Homo sapiens: one gene and its partners. The protein of the gene in region 1 purifies or fractionates together with the protein of each later gene. This does not show direct contact. Each region holds a gene or a part of one and is shown on either strand. Other genes may lie near its edges. The genes, in order: FAM117B, DYRK1A, DCAF7 and FNTB.

Region 1 (6,588 bases):
GTCATTAAAATGTGTCCCTGCTTTCTAAGTTATTACAGTGTAGCCTTCTGACCAGCTCTGCTGTGTGGATACAGACAAAATCCCCAAAACTCAACAACTGTCCCCTGAAACCCAACGACTGTCTTGCATATATAAGCCACTGTCACAAAGGAAGAATATGGCTGAATTACCAAGAATTAAAACAAAAAAACTCCTCTCATGTACTTTATAATGAATGTAAGTGACTGCCCCAGCTAAGTTACCTCTAACAAAACTCTGAAGCAGTGAATTCCTCACGCGTGGGTATCTCTCTGTGCTGCTTATATTTTAATGTGTGCCTAGCACTTACCCCAAAGAGCAGGTACTTTCAGTTCTAGGGCAGGTGAGGGGTAGCAAGGAACTTGCTGCTGAACACAAACAAATTTTTCTATTAGTCTGAGAAAAACAATGTACCGCTTAAAAGCTAGATAAATAACCAGTCCAAAAAGAAATGTAACTTGAATTTGGACAATATTCATAAAAATTCACAGAAAAAAACTCAAGAAGAACAGACTTTATTTTTAACATAAAAGTTCTATTTTCTTGTGAGGCAGCAACAAGTGTTCAGGTACAGGGAATACATAAGTACAGCGTAACAATACCGATTACCATTGGAAATGCTGTTTTTTGAGAGAATTGTTAGAATAACAAAATGTTTTAAATTGCATTTTAAAAAGAGTTACACAGCTTCCACAGAGACAAAAAATGAAGAGTTAAAAAAATTCTATTCTTAAACAAGACTGTATAAACAAAATGCTGTTCAGGGCTGCTCTGCTCATCTTCAATTTGGTCAGAGTAGAACTTAAAGTGCAGAGTTAAGCATTCTTAGCTTTATTTTGCAAATTCAGCACTTCCACTCATCTGGTTTTGAGACATCAAAATTCCAAAGACTAAGGAATGAATCTTAAGTTTACAATAGTAAAGTAAATGCAGTAGTGGCAAATTTTCTTTTATTTTCCTTCACAAAAGAAAATCTTTATAACCCAGTCCTAGTCTTGGACATAGTGAAAGCTATAAATTCTGACTTTTTTTACACTTTCTTTCAGTGAAAGCCAACCACTGAAAGCAAAGAAAAAGGACTTTCATGTCGTCAAATATTCCACAGTTAGCAAGAGCACCTTCTAAAAGACTGATTTGGACTGTAGTCATAAGTATTAAGTATAAGAAATATAAAACAAATTGAATAATCTAGTTGAAAAATAATCTTGACATCCATGCTCACCACATGTAACCAAAGAGGCAAAACCGGTATTTTTAAAACACAGTTGCGTACAAAAGCCATGACAAGTAATAGACTCAGTCATGATCAGAAACAGTAAATTTATATTATTTTTATCATCACAAAGAAGAAATTGTTTAAAGATTTAAAAAAACCTAAGATTGACAAAGTGAATAACCAAATAGCTCCTTTCTCTGAAAGACACATGCTACCCATTTCTTTTAATGCAATGGAAATAAATTTTTATAAAATTAAAAAAATTTAAATTATATTCCCATTGAAGCTATTCTATTTACCTTCTGTACAGTTTTCTACAGAATAACAATAATTATGGAGTGTAACTTTAGAAACCAACATTATGCATTCTATTGAGAGTGTCACATTTCACTGGAAAGCTGGAGACCCATTTAAAAAAAAAATCAACCACCAGGGAACTAAGGGTTAAATAAAACAGCTGAATGAACCTATGGTTAATATTTTTTTCAAGACTGTGGTAAAGCTTACATGCTTAAAAATTAGCCCTTTGGCACTGGCAGTTAGAGTTGTTTTGTACCTTGTACCTTTTTTTCAAATCTCAAGCTCTATTTCTCCCAAACCCCAGGGATCTGTCTGGTTGCCATACAATTCATTTACCTGCAAATTCACATTCTCCTTACAACCAAACATTACACTAGAAGTTCTATGTATAAGACTGTAAATAATTCTGAAACTTGTTCTTCCATTCCAATTTTAAGTTACTTTAGATTAAGGACATATGAAACTCCACAGAAAGATATGAATTAGACAAATAGGCACAACAGAGCAAAAGGGAAAACCTCTACAGAGTGGCATTCTAGTTCTAAAATGCCATTGTGACTAGCAGGGATAGAGATGGAAGAGGAACGGAAGTGCAAGGCCAAGAACACAGATTTAACAGAATTCAAGTCATCCAAAAACCAAGAGTTCTTTTTAAATAACTTGTTTTTAACTTCCTCTACCCCCATTCTGATTTCAGTTTTACCTTTTCTTCTGAACTTCTGATACAGCAGATACTCAGTGGTGATACAGTCAAGTTATAATGCATAACAAAGAAGGCAAAATATCAAGGCTCTCAGTGAGAAAATGTAGACCCCAAATAACTGAGCTTTTCATGACTGAGAAGCCATAACGTACTAGTTCCAAATAAATTAGTTTTGGATTGAGAAAGTACCAAAGTTCATCAATCCCACCATCTAAAACCTGACGGATTTATTCAAATGTTGAATTTATCCAATTTACCTAAATGCATCTCGAATTTAAACTCAACAGGGATTATTTTAAATTGCTTAGATGTTTTAAAGGTACATGAGTATAAGAAGTCCTTTCCAAAGATTTATTGCTACCACTAGGTTTTCCTTGATAGAATATGTCTGGGTAAGCTGACATATTAACCTTCTAAACTGCATCCTCTTTATAAGGATTTAAAAACTTTTTTCTACCTTATAATATGTATAGGAACAGTAAATTATTGCATCATAAAGTAGTATATGAAGATATGAAAAGGATGCTTTTATTCAATACTGTTTGCTGAAACTCACTTTTAAAAAAAGAGCTGCTCCTGGATGGGCGTGGTGGCTCACACCTGTAATCCCAGCACTTTGGGAGGCCAAGACGAGCAGATCACCTGAGGCCAGGAGTTCAAGAACAGCCTGACCAACATGGTGAAACCCCATATATACTAAAAATACAAAATTAGCTGGGTGTGGTGGTGCATGCCTGTAATCCCAGCTACTTGGGAGGCTGAGGCAGGAGAACTGCTTGAACCTGGGAGACAGAGGTCGCAGTGAGCCGAGATTGCGCCATTGCACTCCAGCCTGGGCAACAAGAGTGAAACTCCGTCTCAAAAAAAAAAAAAAAAAAAAGCTGCTCCTTAATCTCACTACCACATACCCAGAAATCACATACTGATGTCATGTGATACTGGCAGTGATTTATATTAGGATGAGCCCTAATCCAAAACTGTATGGAGTTTTCAAAGGTGCTTATCGTTCATACTCAAGTTCTTCTTGTGTATTTTCCCCACTATGTGAAGCGTTAGGGGGGTAAATTAGCAAAATCTGTAGGCAACAAATCTCAGGGCCAACCACCACCACAAAGAAAAATGTCAGTCACAGGATTCTGCGGCTACAGTTTGGATCACTATCCACTGGATTACACTCCTGGCAAACTACTAGCCCAACCAAATCCACAAGACAACAACATCACAAGGGCAAAGGAGGAAATCCATGCACAGCCATTTCAGGATCTCTTTGGGGCTATGATACAGTGATGATTAAAGGTAGAATGACACCTGTGGTAAAGGAGGGAGAGCGTGTGATATATATATATATCACAGAAAACCAAAGGGGCTCCTTACTCTTAGCTAGCAATCAACGCTGGATAGCTTCCTTTTGGCTCACTGACTTTTAAATCAAGTTCCAATATGGGTGAGAACATATTAAAGCACTTGTCTTCAGACTACAACTTTTCTGACCACATGGTGAAATGTGTACAGGAGTAGTGAAGAAAACAGCAGTTATACAAATATTTCACCCAAAGCACAAACTTTTGACATCAAAAACATAAATCACATAATGTACGAATATTGCTTTTTAATCTCTTTTTATATATACTTGTTCAATGCATTTACCTATCAATCCTTGTTTGGGAGAAGAACATAGTCATGAGATTAAGATTGCTGGGAAAACGTCAACAATCCCTTTGGTCCCAAAGCTGAAAACAGCTGAGAAAAGCACACATCTAGAAAGGGAACAAGAAACAGAGGCCACCAAAGAATCTTTTGAATATCCTGTTTGCTACGTTTCAGAAAATGTAACATTGGTATATTATAAAATAGTCATTTTCATAGAAAAGATGGTTCTTGCAGCATCAGTCACATCTCCCTTTAGGAATCATGTTGGCAAGGATCAGGGGTGTGTGTGTGTGTGTGTGTGTGTGTGTGTGTGTGTGTGTGTGTGTTTTAAAGAAGTCTAATTCGAAAACAAAAACGTGATATTGTCTCTCCAAAGGTAAAGAATGAGACCTTTCTTGTTTCAATCAGTGCTTTGATAAAAAGCAGGCTAAGCACTGAGGGTTGGCGTTCACAAGTGGGGCAGAGCCGTCACGGGGGATCCTTTCTTCCAGAAGCCTCGCCGTCACATGTCACTGGAAAGCTGGAGCACATCACAGCCGACCAGAAGCGCACGATGCCATCAGAATCCAGTGATCTGAGGAGGTTCCCAATTTCCCAGAACAACAGCCACGTTGCACTGTGACCTATCCTTCAGCTTCCTCAATTGGTTCTGGTGGTGGGAGTAGAGAAGCTGATGGCATGACTGTACTTGTTCCTCGAGAGACTCGGTCTTGCTCTGTGTTTGTAGACAGGGAGGCCACAGCAATAGGCTGCAGCAGAGTGGTTGTCATGCCAGTGGTGACTGTCAGGCTGTGGCCAGAGCCCTTGAGTGTAAGATCCGGGGTAGGAAGGAGTGGCTTGAGGATGCTGACGAGGCAGAAAGCAGATCCACTTTTAGGAATGAAATTCACCTTGTTTTTGTCAGGACAATAAAAGGCTGGGATTTCATGAAGCTGTTTTGGCCTAGACATAGAACAGACAACCCAATGCTTTTAAGTCACTGAACTTAAAAAATAAAAAAAAAAAAAAGCTTGGAAACAAGCTCTTTTATTTTTTAAAAACAGTTAACTTACATCACAGAAAAGGAATATAAAACTCAAGCTCTGTCCCCCACCTTCAAACATAAAGGACCAAAGTGCTATCTGACATATGATTCAACATATGTATCTTAGAATGCAAGAAGCCCCCATCATCATTGCTGCTTTCAGTTCCCTTGACAGCCCCATTACCATGCAGGTGGCTCAGCCCGATGAGCACTGCATGTCAATGATGAGCTAAGACGGTCAAGGGAATAATGAATTTCCTATAGCAAAAGAAAATCTAGATGTTTAAAGACATGTATGCCTTTATGTATGGTATATTCCACTGCCATGATTTTTCCGAGGTCTATAGTATACTGGAAGGAGACAGCAAGGAAATTAAAGATATACAATGTCCGTCTTTTGCTAAGTTCCACCACTGCATGACTAAAACTATGGTAGGCCTGGCTTTTCTCTTCAAGTGCTTGTAAAAATCTCTTTGATGGAAACAATTCTTTGAGTTAACCCTGATAGTTTTCTGAGCAATATAATGTAAATGTGAAATCAAAATGAAAACTCCTTTGCTTTGAAAGCTTTTTATTAAAGCCAAATCCTTCCCTTTTCCTAGGTCCTCCTGAAAATTAACCCAAATTGTTGAAAAAGATATTGGTATTAATGGTATTTCATGAAAATTAAAAGTATAAAAAAACTACATTGTTAAAGCAACACAGAAATGCCACAGAACTAAGGTGGGAGAACCTAAATAAATCAAGACTTAGGTTGATTCTCATCTCTTCCAATGACAATAAAAATCTAAATCAGCCAGCCATGGTGGTTCACACCTGTAATTTCAGCACTTTGGGAGTCTGAGCGGGGAGGCTTACTTGAACCCAGGAGTTCCAGACCAGCCTGGGCAACATAGTGAGACCTCGTCTTTATAAAAACCTTAAAAAAAAAAATAATCTAGTCTGACGGCATGCACCTGTAGTCCCTGCTACCTGGGAGGCTGAGGTGGGAGGATAGCTTGGCCCTGGGAGGTGGAGGTTGTACTGAGCCATAATCGGGCCACTGCACTCCAGCCTGGACAGCAGAGCAAGACCCTGTCTCACACACACACAAAAAATCTAAATCAGTTCAATAAAAATGCAAGTGTTCACTAAATTCTGAGGATACAAAGTTGAAACAATCCACAAGGAGGAGGTGGACTAAATTTATAGTTCTTGTGGGGTGAGGAGTGATGGGGACAGAGCTGTGTTTCAACATAACTAGCTTCCTTTATAATCTTGTGTATATGATGCATTTAAAACATTATTCAGAGAAGGGATCCACAAGCTTTACCACACAGACTGCCAAAGCTGTCCACAGCACAGAAGAGGTTAAGACCGCCACAAGAGAATCTAACAGGCATGATTACAGAGGTTTATAAAAAGGTTTACAGGTAGCACAAGGGGGTGGATAACCTGTGGCCTGTAGGAAGAGGGAGGGTTTGGTAGTAACCCTCTGAGCTGGGTTTTGAAGAATGAGTAAACAGCGGATGGGGAGTGGACACCAAAAAGATGTGTGTTCCAAGTAGACAATGATTAGGTGGGCAGATTTTTATTAACAGTGAACACTATGGAGAGCTTTGGCAAATATAACAATTAAGAACAAAGAAAAATACATCATGTAGGTTATGTTCAACTTGGGCACTATTCTTTGTAGAA
Region 2 (3,385 bases), on another chromosome or scaffold:
GCCGGTCTACCAATAAGAATTGGAAATCTTTTGGGGGAATAACATTTCCCTAATTGAGATTCAGAGCTAGTGTTGTGAATCGTCAAAACCAATTGCATATTTGCATATATTTATCTGTTAATGCTGATTTGGAATGAGATGTGACACAGTTCATCTTTGAACATGTCTTCACACAGATAGGTACCTTCCCAACACTACTATGTCCATGAGCATTTTTTTTTTTTTTTTGAGACAGGGTCTTGCTCTGTCACCCAGGCTGGAGAGCAGTGGTGTGACCTCAGCTCACTGCAACCTCTGCCTCCCAGGCTCGGATGATGCTCCCACCTCCATCTCCCAAGTAGCTGGGACCACAGGCATGTGCCACCAAGCGAGGCTAATTTTTGTACTTTTTTTTTTTTTGTAGAGACAGGGTTTCACCATGTTGCCCAGGCTGGTCTTGAACTCCTAGGCTGAAGTGATCCTCCCATTTCAGACCCCCAAAGTGCTGGGATTACAAGTGTGAGCCACTGCACCCAGCTCATGAGCATAAGATGTTTAGCTTAGCATATTTATTACATAAAACACATTTATACATTTTTATAAGATTCTATTAGACTCTATTAAATTTTTCTTTAGATAGTTGCCTTTCAACACATTAATCACTTCTCAAATGCAGATCAATGGATTCTGAAATATAAAAATTTCTTTTGGGTTTGCATTGAGGTCCCTAACACACTGCTCAAACTGTAGTTTGGGCTCAGATAATGTATCTGTGGCAAATGTGTGTGGGAATGGAGCTCTTCTTTTTTTAACTTTTAACAACATGGGAAGAGCTTAAAGCAGTAACATTAGTTGTGATTCAAACAATAGTTCTTCTTGAAATCACTTAACACAGTAGGAGTTTCACATAAACACTGTTTTTATCTTGTGGTTTAGGCTGAATTCCTTAAGAAACACTATCAAGTCTGCAGCAAAAGTGAATTTCCAAAACTATTCAGTGTTTAGTAACGGTGGTTCGGGGCAGTTCTCATTCAGAAAAATTTCAATCTTTGTCCTGAGCTCAAAACTTAAATGAAACTTTACCACTACTAAACCATTGAACTGCTGTATTACAGGCCATGTCGGGATATTCAGCTAATATTTCTGACAAAAATTCATGAGAGCTGTTGATAGTGAAGTCCACAAGAGCTAAAGGAAGTTCACTATTGACAATACTGGTTCAATAATGCATGATAGATTCAAATATTTCTCACAAAGTATCTGTTGACTTAAATAATACAATGAATAATCTATAGGCTTTAACACCTTATATTATTACAAGCTTTGTAAGTTGTCCAACTGAGCCATTTTCTATTCCACACTGATATGAGTTAGCTGTGTCCCCACCCAAATCTCATTGAATTGTAGCCCCCATAATCCCCACGTGTCATGGGTAGGACCCAGTGGGAGGTAACTGAATCATGGAGGCAGGATTTTACCATGCTGTTCTCATAATAGTGAGTAAGTCTCATGAGATCTGATGGTTTTATAAAGGGCAGTTCCCCTGCACACACTCTCTTGCTTGCCGCCACCTAAGACTTGCCTTGGCTTCTCCTTTACCTTCCACAACGATTGTGAGGCCTCCCCAACCATGCGGGACTGTGAGTCCATTAAACCTCTTTTTCTTTATAAATTACCCAGTCTCAGGCTTTTCTTTATAGCAGTATGAAAATGGACTAATACACACATATATTTCCACTACCAACAGTCATAACACATCTTAGCAGATTCCACTTCAGGGTGTACTGAATTCGTTTTCTCAACTTTTTGTTTTGAGACAATGTTCTCACTCTGTCATCCAGGCTGGAGTACAGTGGTGCAATCTCAGCTCACTGCAACCTCCACCTCCTGGGTTCAAGCGATTCTCCTGCCTCAGCCTCCTGAGTAGCTGGAATTACCAGTGCATGCCATCATGCCCGGCTAATTTTTGTACTTTTAGTAGAGATGTAGTTTCACCATGTTGGCCAGGCAGGTCTCAAACTCCTGACCTCAGGTGATCTGCCCACCTTGGCCTCCCAAAGTGTTGGGACTATAGGCATGAGCCGCCACACCTGACCAGTTTTCTCAGCTTTGAAAATACTTTTGCCAGTAGTTGTTCCACATAAGACTATTGATAGAGGCCAATTCTTCAGTTACTTCCAACTTGGTACTGGCTCCTCAAATAAAGAGCAATAGCGGAGCAGTGTGCATAACATATGGTGACCCCTGTCATGAGAGTCAGGGGAAACCACTCAAAACCATTTGCCTTTTTAGTCGACTACTGATGTCATTCCTAATGTCAACTCTTTGAGCAACTGTTGTCGTGGAAAGGCCAATAAACAAGTTTACTTTCTCTGAGCATGTTTCTTCAGCTGCAGTAATCAAGCATGATTTAATTAATTCACCATAAGTGACTTTCCTTGCTTGGCTAACAAATGAGCCATCTGAAACTTACTTTGGTTGTAGCTTCATTTTCATTTTTTATTTTTGTGAATAAATTCTGTGATGAGATATTCAATTTTAAATTTTCTAATTTTTCTGACCATTGCTTTCTTGTGAATTAGAAATATCTTGATGAGTGCTAAGATGGGAAGTAACAACATGTATTTTGGTTTTTTTTTACTTTTTGTGGAGATGGGGGGTCTCACTATACCACCCAAGCTGGTCTCCAAATCCTGGGTTCAAGTGATTCTCCCACCTCAGCCACCCAAATCGTTGGGATTACAGGCATGAGCCACTGCACCTGGTTGTATTGTGTTCCTTAGGACAGCTACCATGTCATTGCACTTTGCTGCCTAATTCAGTAACAATTCATACTCCATTGTACCTTAAAAGCACAATGATATTTGAAATCCACTTTTCTTGTATATATTGGTAATAAAAAATAAAATGTTGTAGCATGGGAATACAAGTGGCATTCAAAATGCTGCTGAGTTATAACTGTGTCACTGCAATTTACATTGCACAGAGCGGCAGGGCAAAATGATGAGAATGCCACATATTCTCATCATACGGTCTCTGCAGCAACTACTCAATTCTGCCACAGTAGCACCAAAGTGGCCGTGGACAACTTGCAAATGAATGTGGTTATGTTCCAATAAAACTTCATTTATGGACACTGAAATTCAAATGTCATATAATTTCCCTATGTCCTGAAATATCATTTGATGTTTTTCAGCCATGTAAAATGTGAAAATCACCCTTAGTTTGGTGAGCCATACAAAAACAGGAGGGTACCTTGCTGATGCCTAATCTGCAATGGGCAGGAAACAGAAGCCAAAGTCGTCCCTGCTCTTCCAGAGCTCTCCTGTTCCTGAACAGCCGATAGCCCTGGAAGGATGTGATAACAGCAGCAGGAAAGCAGGTTGATGCTTCAGGGAGACAAAAA
Region 3 (7,515 bases), on another chromosome or scaffold:
TCTAAAGTTCCTCCAAATTATGAAGTCGACCACCTCTTTGGCAGGGTTTCTCACAAACTTAGCCTGAGAATCACTTTAAGGCAGGATTTGCTGCTCACCAACCACTACACATACTTCTCTCTCGCAGGGTTTCTTAACTTGGGGTCTGTGAACTTGAATTGGAAAATTATCCCCATATTTCCATTAACCTCTAGCTAAATTTTTTTGTTTCCTTCAATTACAAATGGGGTCAGGTGCTCACAGTGGTATGACTGTCTGTGACTTTGCCAGCAAGAGAATTTTTTTTTCCCACCACAGCACAGTTGTTAAGCATCTTGAAATGCTGTTTACCCTTGTCACCATTTCAAAATTACATTAATAATTACAGTGGATGGTGTAAATCAATAAGTTAATTTATTAAAAGTACATATGACTACATCACCACTTTAAAAAACATGTTGTTTATATCTGTAGTGCAACATAAGTGGTTTCTTTTGTAATTCTATGTGTTTTATGCATTTGAAAACATAACTATGAGAAGGGGTCTATTGGTATCAGATGACCATGGCACACAGAATTTAAGAACCCTGATCTACTGATAGGTGGAGGCACAAAAATGATTTTAAGACAGCGCATTGCCTACATCATGTGAGTTAAGATATAGTTAACTGCTAATGCTGTTGATAGTGGGGTTATTAGTTTGCATTTCACTGCTAAGCCATGCTACCTGTGTGCCTGTCACAAAGAGGAAGCTCCAGATAGTTGCTAAATGAAAGGACAAACTGGGGTAGAGTTCCTGCAACAGCAGTTTGACTACTCCACTGATCCTACCAAGCAGCCTAACTGTGGCTCAGTTTCTCCTCTCTGAGGAATAGGAGTAACTATTGCTTACCCAACGACCCTGGAAAAACTTACAAGAAAAAACATTAATTTGTGTAAAAAGACTTAAGCCCTTTGAAAGACATACTTTTTTATTTTCCACGTGTATCTTTAAACAATAGTTCTAGTGGTCTTAATTTTATTAACACGGTGTCCACATCAGAATCGTGAATCCCATTTCCAGTTCTGCTGTCCACTATGGGCCATAAGGAAGAAAGAAGCAACAGAGGAAAGAAAGCTCTATCTCGCCCGGGCAATGGGTGGACTTAAAGATCAGTGCATATTCCTTGGATTTGTTTGTAAATTGTTCATGTATGTGTAATGTCTGGACAATGAGAATCCATAGCTTTCATCAGCTTCTCAAAGTGGACTCCAAAGAGGACCTACTCTAGAGAAACAAATGTGCTCCTGAAAAACTGTAAACAAACTGTGAAATGTTCAAATTTCTTTTTTACAAGACCCTCACATGTAAACCAGAACCCCTTCCGTACAAACTGTGGGTCACAGATAATAAAACAGGCCTGTGCAACATCTCACAGCTAGTCAATAACCAGACAGGACCACCTGGTTTCTTCCCCCCTGCATCAGCCTTGTCACTGAACAGTTTTATTCTTCTTTTTTTTTCTGAGACAGAGTCTCACTCTGTCGCCCAGGCTGGAGTGCAGTGGCGCCATCTCGGCTCACTGCAACCTCCGCCTCCCAGGTTCAAGCAATTCTCCAGCCTCAGACTTCCGAGTAGCTGGGACTACAGGCGCACTAAGCTACGCCCGGCTTTTTTTTTTTTTTTTTTTTTTTTTTTTTTTTTTTTTTTTGTATTTTAGTAGAGACGGGGTTTCACCGTGTTACCCAGGCTGGTCGCGAACTCCTGAGCTCAGGTAATCCGCCCGCCTCGGCCTCCCAAAGTCCTGGGATTACAGGCGTGAGCCACCGCGCCCGGCCAGTTTTACTCTTCTTAAATCTGATGTTCATGGCATAAAGCAGGAGTAGTGGCTTTAAATATCACTAGCCACAGCTTTCAGTTGCTCTGATCGCTATCATTCACAACTTTGAGTAAAAGGAAGAAAGAAAATTCTTCCAACTGACTTATTCAACTTTCAAAAATGAGTTTGTTGCAATGCCAGTTTAAAAGCTCCCCTACTACACCGTGCTTCTATAAAGGATTCTCAAATTGATGTATGTCCAGCAAGACTTACTACTAAAGGTCACACAACTGTACTAGCACGAAACAAGCCAAGAGATAAGGCCCTGTCATCCTTCTGTGTTCAGGAAACAACGGCGGGATCATGCCACAGGCCAAGATTTCCAAAGAGATTGCTTTAGAGAGAATGGATATCAGGAAGCAAGAGCAACAGTAATTCTGGCAGAAGGGCTAGGATCCATGAGTACCCGGGGGGGGTGGGAGTAGGGGGCGGGGAAGCTTGTACAATAGATCGTCTTAATAGAAATCTAGTGTGGCCAGGAGTGCACGACCACCAATAGAAGCGCCTGCATTTTCCTTCACAGCTATCACTCTCTCTTCCCTTCCCCGCCCACCAACGAAAGCAATGCGGCAGGAGTGGAGAGCACGGGATGAATAAATGGAGTATCTTTGGGGCGTAAACCCGGTTTTAAGACCTGTTTCCACCCCGAAATAGCTGCCTGACCCAGGCAAGTCACAAAACCGTGCCTCAGTTTCCCCACTACACTGCCGACTACACAAGAATGCTGCCTGGATTAAAGGAGACAGACAACGAGTACGAAACCTTCAGCACAGGGCCAGACAGAGGAACCGCTCCGTGGCCCTAGGGCGAGTCCGCAAGAGGGTTCTGAGGCCTGGGCTCCGGCCCGGAAAGGGCGCTCCCGGGGCCCGCTCCCCGCCAGCTGGGTTCCGAGCCCCTGCCCGGCCCACCTTGTTGTTGTACTCCTCCACGAAGCTGCCCAGCGCCAAGCGAAAGCGCTTATCGGGCCGCACACTCCAGTTCATCGCGTAGACTGTCCAGGGCGCTTCATACTTGTAGATCTCCTTCCGTTTGCCGTGCAGGGACATGGTGGCCACGGGGCCGCAGTACGGGCCGGGTCAACAGTGGGCTGCGGCGGGCGGGGAGCCGAGCCTGAGATCTATGGGTCCGAAGGGAGGAGAGGAGGGGGCGGGCAGGAACGGCCTAACCCGGAAGCGGGGATGCGGCGACAAACAACGACGACGGCCGAGCCCGACCCCTAGTTTCAAACCAGCTTGGGAACGGACGACAACCACCTTCCGTTTTGGGACGCCGCCCCGCCCTCTCGGAACGGAAGCCGCCGGACCCCCGCAGCGGCACCGGCCGTTGGTTGCCTGACACGTCCTTTCGAAAGGATTCTTTCTTGTCATTGGTTATTGCGGCCGTAGCGTCTGAAATCTCCTCGCTATTGGGTTAAATGTTTGTCATTGCAACTACTCGCCCCGCCCAACTCTCGGAGGCAGGCGCTTTGGCAGCCCCAAAGGTCATTGGTTGGCCAAGATGTCAGTCAGGCAGATAACGGCTCAGTGCGGGTGGTGGGGGCGTGGGTGGCCTGGAGGCGAGCGTGCTGTAGCAGCGGGCCTCCAAGTTCTAGGCCAAGTCTCTGAGAGTGAAACCGTCTGTGACCTGCGCTGACTTCCCCTCCGCTGCTGCTGTTCTGAGCGGCCTCTCCACGCTGTCGAGTAAAAGTACAATTCTGCCTTAGTGGAAGACCTACTGACTTTCGCGGGACAGAGCCCTGCGGCCTGGCAGCCTGGCCTGCGCCCAACGGGTACCACCTTCCCGCCCCATCTCTTCCCAGGGCCCTTTTAACCCGAAAGCTGCTCTCTCCGTGCCTCAGGGACAGGCTTCGGGCGCGCAGATGCGCTCAGGGCCAGGCCAGCTTGAGTCAGGCCCTCCCGCGCTTTCCTGCAGGATCTAGAAATGTCCCCGAATTCTGGGGTAGGCACCGACCCGACCAGCTTGGCTCTGTTTTTGTCAGTTCCCATCCTGTACCCTTCCCGCCGTGGATCCCAACGCAAATGCTAATCCAGCCCCAAAGGTATCTGTGCCTGTGAGTTGGAAAAGGGGAAGGGCCAGAGACCAAATGACACCTTTATATAAATTATTTCCAATTCTCAGCTTTCATCAAAATTGAAGGAGGTTTGTATTGAATTGTTGGATGATAACATTAAATACTTTTTTTTTTTTTTTTTAAAGACAGGGTCTTGCCCTGTCACCCAGGCTGGAGTGCACTGGTGTGATAAGGGCTCACTGTAGCCTGGACTGCCTAGGTTCAAACGATTCCCCCACTTTAGCCTCTGGAGTAGCTGGAACCACAGACATTTGCCACCACACCTAGCTATTTTTAAATTATTATTTGTAGAGATGAGATCTCTCCATGTTGCCCAGGCTGATCTCGAACTCCTGGGCTCAAGCGATCCTCCCACATCAGCATCCTAAAGTACTGGGATTACAGGCTTGAGCCACCATTCTGGGCACTAAATATAATTTTTAATGATAAATGATTTTTCCACCTCCCAGGTTCAAGTGATTCTCCTGCTTCAGCCTCCCGAGTAGCTGAGATTACAGGGGTGCACCACCACAGCCAGCTAATTTTTGTATTTTTAGTAGAGATGGGGTTTCACCATGTTGGCCATTCTGGTGTCGAACTCCTGACCTCAAATGATCTTCCAGCCTCGGCCTCCCAAAGTGTTGGGATTACAGGCGTGAGCCACCGCATCTGGCCAAGAAATCCTCTTTTTTTTTTAATTTTATTTTATTTTTGAGATGGAGTCTCACTCTGTCGCCCGGGCTGTAGTGCAGTGGCACTATCTCGGCTCACTGCAACCTCTGCCTTTAGGGTTCAAGTGATTCTCTTGCTTCAGCCTCCTGAGTAGCTGGGATTACAGGCGCCCGCCACCATGCCCAGCTAAAGGAAATCCCCTGTAAGGAGGAAAGTTTAAAAACAAATTTAAAAAGGAAAGAAAAAGACGTACAAAATTCGCGGTACCTTGTCTTATTCTAATAAAAAATAATGATATTTATCCACAGATATAGGAACTAACGGGGGGAGGAAATTTTCTCTTTTATGACGTATATTTCCAATAAAATTTTAGTTTTTATTAGAAAATTGAATATATATTTATGTTGTTTTGAACAACTGTACTACTAATAGATGTAACCCTTAAAGCCTTATTAAGGTTACAAAAATTAATTTTAAAATGTCAATTAATTTATACACATTCGTTTTGAGGCAGGGTCTTGCTCTGTTATCCAGGTGGTGGTGCAGTGGGGCAAACAGTGCTTATTGCAGCCTTGACCTCCCGGGCTCAAGCAATCCTCCTGCCTCCTTTATTTTTTGTAGAGACAAGATCTTGCTATGTTGCCCAGGCTGGGTTCAACTGGTCCTCCCACCTCAGCCTCCCAAAATGCTGGGATTATAGGCATGAGCCACCCCATGACCGACCTACTTTTTTTTTGAAACGGAGTCTTGCTCTGTTGCCCACGCTGGAGTGCAGTGGCACGATCTTGGCTCACTACAAGCTCCACCTCCTGGGTTCACGCCATTCTCCTGCCTCAGCCTCCCGAGTAGCTGGGACTACAGGCACCTGCCACCACGCCTGGCTATTTTTTTTGTATTTTTAGTAGAGATGGGGTTTCACCCTGTTAGCCAGGATGGTCTTGATCTCCTGACCTCGTGATCTGCCCACCTCAGCCTCCCAAAGTGCTGGGATTACAGGTGTGAGCCACTGCGCCCAGCCACTTTTTTTTTTTTTTTTAAGAGACCGAGTCTTGCTCTGTTACCCGGGCTGGAGTACAGTTGCATGAACATGGCTTACTGCAGTCTTGACCTCTTAGGTTCAAGTGACTCTCCCACCCAAGCCTCCCAGCAAGCCCTGTAGTACCTGGGACTACAGGTGCGCATCACAATGCTTGGCTAATTAAAAAAAAATTGTTTTGTAGAGACCAGGTTGAGCTATGCTGCCCAGGCTGGTCTTGAATTCCTGGCTCAAGCAATCTTCCAGCCTCAGCCTCCCAAAGTGTTGGGATTACAGGCATGAGTGAGCCACTGCACCCAGCCTGTATACATATTTGTGTTGCAAACATATGATAGGGTGATCAATATTAGGCTTTGAAGCATACCAATAAATTACATGTAGGATAAAACTATGGGAGGAATAAGTGGGAATTATGAGAAAAGAAAAAAGAACGATGTTAAAGAAGGGTTTCTTGTGTTTTTAAAATAGATGGTGGTGGCTCTCAAATCGCTGCTATTTGGGTAGAAATGGGTCAATACAAATGCCCCGTGTTGGGCACGGGGATGATTTTTAAAATTTTCATTTTGAGACAGGGTCTTATTCCCTTGCCCAGGGTGTGAGTTCAGTGATGCAATCACGGCTTACTGTAACCTTGGACTCCTGGCCTCAAGCAGTCCTCCTGCCTCATCCTCCTCCCAAAGCCCTGGGATTACAGGCATGAGCCACTACACCTGGCCTCTTTTTTTATTTTTATTTTCTTTTTAACTGAGGTATAATTTACACACAGAAGCACACTCTTTCGCAACCTGAACACCTGTAACCAGCACCTAGATCAGGAAACAGAACAGTACCTGCACCTCAGAAATCCCCCTCATGTTTGGGTGTCTTAGTCTCTCTGCTACTGATCCCACATCTGTAAAATGGGGATAATAATACCAACCCGTTGGGGTTGTTTTGAGGATTAGATGAACAAGTATCTGCAGAGCTGTCAGCACAGTGCCTGGTACGGGGCGAGTGCTACCGAAGTGTTGGCTGTTGTCATGATCCCCTAGGGCCACCAAGCCAGTGCCTCTGCTTCCCTTCACCTCGGCCTAACAGCCCCAGGCTCCAGGAGCCTCTGGGCCCAGCAGAACCACCTTCAGGTCCCCAACACACTGGATATGGTGGAGGGTAAGTCTGCAGCTCCTTACAAGAAGGGTTTGGAGAAAGCCACAGCACAGTCAAAGACGTAATGACCTTCAGATAAGTTACACACCCAGTCCAACATGAAATGTGTACTTTATTAGCTGTGTGACACTCCACTGCCCTCAAGAGACCCAATGTCACAGAACCATCAGGAGCAGAGGGCTGGAGGACTGTCCTGACATGTCTGCCACAGAACATACCTCCATCTCCAGCCAGGTCAGAGGCTCATGGTAAGAGTTCTGACCAACCCCGGGCCTTGGTGCTGAGCCATGAGGTGCTGGAGGGTTCTGAGCTGGGAGGCTCAGAGCAAGGTACTCATGTAGATCAGAAACCTCTTTCTTCACTGCCCCCTCAATCCTGTAAGCTGCCTCCACACCTGAGACTCTCCCACCCTGCACCAGGCTTGCTGTTTAAATGGAGCCCTGGAGGAGGCTGGGAAAAGTCGTGAGCTTCTTCACCCACGCCATCCTGGGTCACCTGGATCAGCAGTTTGTAGCTACTTTAGGAGAGGCCCATCTGGGGGGCTGTCTGCCTCCCCAAGATCTTTTTTTTTTTTTTTTTTGAGTTGGAGTCTCACTCTGTCACCCAGGCTGGAGTGCAGTGGTGCGGCCTCGGCTCCCTGCAACCTCCACCTCCCGGGTTCATGCCATTCTCCTGCCTCAGCCTCCCCAGTAGCTGGGATTACAGGCGCCTGCCACCACGCCCGGCTATTTTTTTTCTTTTTTAATTTTAGTAGAGGTGGGGTTTCACCGTGT
Region 4 (3,555 bases), on another chromosome or scaffold:
CCACAGTGGGAGAATCCTGAATATTGGCCTAGGATTATGCCGTGTCAAATCTAAAGTTTCTTTTGGGTTTCTGTGATGTACTAGAATAACATCTATTTAATTTAAATTTCATATTTAAATTTTGTTTATATATTTAAATATGATCTGACAGCCTTACTACATATTAGGGTTGTGGTCCTTTTTTCTTTTTTTTTTTTTTTTGAGACAGAGTCTCGCTGTTGCCCAGGTTAGAGTGCAGTGGCACAATCTTGGCTCACTGCAACCTCCGCCTCCCGGGTTCAAGCAATTCTCCTGCTTCAGCCTCCCAACTAGCTGGGATTACAGACACTCACCATCATGCTCGGCTAATTTTTGTATTTTTGTAGAGACGGGGTTTCACCATCTTGGCCAGGCTGGTCTTGAACTCCTGACCTCGGGTGATCCATCCACCTCGGCCTCCCAAAATGCTGGGATTACAGGCATGAGCCACCGCGTCCGGCCCCCTTTTTCTTGATTATAAATGTAAATACATGTTTATTGTTTTAATAATTGGGATACATAAAATATAAAAAAGAAAATGAAAAACAATCATATCACTATTAATATTTTGGTATGGGTACAATTTTTGCTATTTATATACATCACAGGTACAAATACACTTTTTAAAAAGTTTGAGACCAGGTGTGGTGGCTCACACCTGTAACCCCAGCACTTTGGGAGGCCGAGGCGGGTGGATCACCTGAGGTCAGGAGTTCGAGACCAGCCGGACCAACATGGTGAAACCCTGTCTCTACTAAAAATACAAAAATAATCCCAGCACTTTGGGAGGCCGAGGCGGGCGGATCACGAGGTCAGGAGATCGAGACCATCCCGGCTAAAACGGTGAAACCCCGTCTCTACTAAAAATACAAAAAATTAGCCGGGCGTAGTGGCGGGCGCCTGTAGTCCCAGCTACTTGGGAGGCTGAGGCAGGAGAATGGCGTGAACCCGGGAGGCGGAGCTTGCAGTGAGCCGAGATCCCGCCACTGCACTCCAGCCTGGGCGACAGAGCGAGAGACTCCGTCTCAAAAAAAAAAAAAAAAAATACAAAAATTACCCAGGCGTGGTGGCTCACACCTGTAATCCCAGCTACTCAGGAGGCTGAGGCAGGAGAATTGCTTGAACACAGGAGGCAGAGGTTGCAGTGAGCTAAGATCGTGTCAATGCACTCCAGCCTGGGCAACAGAGCAAGACTCTCTCAAAAAAAAAAAAAAAAAAAAAAAAACAGTTTGAGATAGTATTGTACATACTGTTTTCTCACATAATATGTTGTAAGTATTTGCCTGTATCGTTAAATATTTAAATGCGTGTTTATAATGGCTGTATATTAACCTGTGTCCCATGTACTAGATAGTTTTAGCAAATACACCATTTTTGAACCTTTGGGCTTTGTGTGTATCTCTGATTCCTTATACTAAATTCTTAGAAGTGCCTTTCATGGAGCAAAGGATGTGTTATGTTTTCAAGGACCACCGGGGTGATTAACTGGCACCTTTTCTTCTCTTTGCAGCAGCCCACTCACCCAGTGTACAACATTGGACCAGACAAGGTGATCCAGGCCACTACATACTTTCTACAGAAGCCAGTCCCAGGTTTTGAGGAGCTTAAGGATGAGACATCGGCAGAGCCTGCAACCGACTAGAGGACCTGGGTCCCGGCAGCTCTTTGCTCACCCATCTCCCCAGTCAGACAAGGTTTATACGTTTCAATACATACTGCATTCTGTGCTACACAAGCCTTAGCCTCAGTGGAGCTGTGGTTCTCTTGGTACTTTCTTGTCAAACAAAACCAATGGCTCTGGGTTTGGAGAACACAGTGGCTGGTTTTAAAAATTCTTTCCACACCTGTCAAACCAAAAATCTATCAGCCCACGTGGTGTGGTTGGTGAACAGTGCATGCCAGGAGGAAGCAGTCCCTCCTCACCAGCTCTCCAGCCAGGACGATCACACAGAGATGAATGGCATCTGAGTATTACGGCATCCAGAGCCACTGCTGACTCCCACTTGCACGCCACCATTCAGTCACCAGACTGGGTGCCCTCCGATGGGTGGAATAAGTCTGCTTCATGCCAAGGCTGGGCTTTGGGTCCCACCAAGATGAGTTCTCTGTAAGACTGTGGTGGAGTTGCACCAGGAGGTGCCTCTGCCTCTCGACTTGCACCCTGGTCATTTGTAAGGGAAAAGAGCTGGAGGTGGGGAGAGAAAGATCTCCTTCAGTTGGGAGTCCTTCCACTTCAACACTGGAGAACTGAGCCTTGCATCTCTCCAGGGTCCAAGGCCACGCTTGGTGCACAGGCAAGACTTGCTTCAGCCCCAGGTGTGGTGACTTAGACCTAGGAAACCAATTATGAGTGGAAAGTGACCCTCTAGTTCAACTGTGCCAGAGGAAACAGCCCTCCAGTGCCCACCTGCCTCACTCCTCCCTATCATGTACCGTGAAAACCCCCTCTGATGGCCTCAAGGCAGTGCCTGCAGGCCGAGGCCCTTCTGGGGGTTTCTATCTTTCTTCCACCAGACTCCAAGCCCACTCTCCTCCAAGACTGTGTTGTCTTTTCTCACCAAGAGTATTAACACTACTAAGTCTTTCACCTTAACTTATGACTCAGGATTTATTCACGTCCTGCCCACTCTAGGCTCACAGGAATAAAATCAAGTGCTAGACACACTGGCTGCTACTAAGGCACTAGCCTCTGTAGCTGGTGGTGGCAGCGTGGGGTGCCGCCCAGCGTGCTGGGTCCTGGCAGTGCCTCTGCTGTGCTGCACATTGAGCCCTTTCTCAGTCAGTGGAGTATCAAGTTGGGCCATCTGTCTACTGACCTGGCCTTCATGTAAGCAGCTGTGGGCTGCGGGCAGACAGGAGCTCAGAGATGCAGCATGAGGCGCTTAGAAAAACCTGGCCATTTGCTGCCTCTAATTCCCTTTTGCTTTGCCATATTGGGCTATGTATTACCTCCTTGAAATAATAAAAGAATAACATTTTCTATGATGTCTCTTATTTGTGATCTGTACCAAGAAAATGCCCAATGGTAGGAGCTACTAAAGGTTGCTCAGGGATCGTCAGTCTCCTGTGTGCAGGATTCCAGACTGTTCACATCGGTGGTGACAGAGGAATGACCGAGTTCCATCCTCACATGCCGTCTCCTCCAGTAGAGGAAGCCGTGGGCCTAACAGAGAGTGGGAAGAGATGTTTTCCAAGCTCCCTGGGGTAATTCGGTATGCTATGTCCCAGCCCTCCACACACTGCACTTCATGGTCTGTCTCCGACAGACAGCAAGGACTGGGCCTAGTAGCCCCAGAGCAGGCTGACTTAGCAAGGGTGGGTGGATGTCTGGCCAGAGGCAGGGGCTGTCACAGGGACAGGCTGGAACTCTGTGGCCACTTGGCTTTCCCTTCCTCTGGCGAGAGACCCTCTCCCATGGGAGGCCAAGAACATGGATGTCCTGTGGCCTGACCCTCTTGGAGGGGAGAGAAGATGGTGTCCTTAGAGGGCACCCAAATCCATGTAAATAAGCCAAATGCACATCCAGGAATGTAATTC

The links.
Region 2: the proteins of FAM117B (region 1) and DYRK1A purify together in Homo sapiens (affinity purification with mass spectrometry; 9 studies listed by BioGRID and IntAct, with this or other methods). This does not show direct contact.
Region 3: the proteins of FAM117B (region 1) and DCAF7 purify together in Homo sapiens (affinity purification with mass spectrometry; 3 studies listed by BioGRID and IntAct, with this or other methods). This does not show direct contact.
Region 4: the proteins of FAM117B (region 1) and FNTB purify together in Homo sapiens (affinity purification with mass spectrometry; 3 studies listed by BioGRID). This does not show direct contact.

What each region holds. Positions count from the first base shown.
Region 1 is NC_000002.12:202,763,687-202,770,274, reverse strand, and holds the end of FAM117B (protein FAM117B), read right to left. Parts: intron 4,830-6,588; coding exon 4,511-4,829; 3' UTR 518-4,510; downstream 1-517.
Region 2 is NC_000021.9:37,523,507-37,526,891, reverse strand, and holds the end of DYRK1A (dual specificity tyrosine-phosphorylation-regulated kinase 1A), read right to left. Parts: 3' UTR 534-3,385; downstream 1-533. UniProt on the Homo sapiens protein: Dual-specificity kinase which possesses both serine/threonine and tyrosine kinase activities. Exhibits a substrate preference for proline at position P+1 and arginine at position P-3.
Region 3 is NC_000017.11:63,546,047-63,553,561, reverse strand, and holds the start of DCAF7 (DDB1- and CUL4-associated factor 7), read right to left. Parts: upstream 3,086-7,515; 5' UTR 2,885-3,085; coding exon 2,747-2,884; intron 1-2,746. UniProt on the Homo sapiens protein: Involved in craniofacial development. Acts upstream of the EDN1 pathway and is required for formation of the upper jaw equivalent, the palatoquadrate. The activity required for EDN1 pathway function differs between the first and second arches.
Region 4 is NC_000014.9:65,059,653-65,063,207, forward strand, and holds the end of FNTB (protein farnesyltransferase subunit beta), read left to right. Parts: intron 1-1,528; coding exon 1,529-1,660; 3' UTR 1,661-2,998; downstream 2,999-3,555. Other genes in the region: CHURC1-FNTB protein, read left to right, coding at 1,529-1,660. UniProt on the Homo sapiens protein: Essential subunit of the farnesyltransferase complex. Catalyzes the transfer of a farnesyl moiety from farnesyl diphosphate to a cysteine at the fourth position from the C-terminus of several proteins having the C-terminal sequence Cys-aliphatic-aliphatic-X.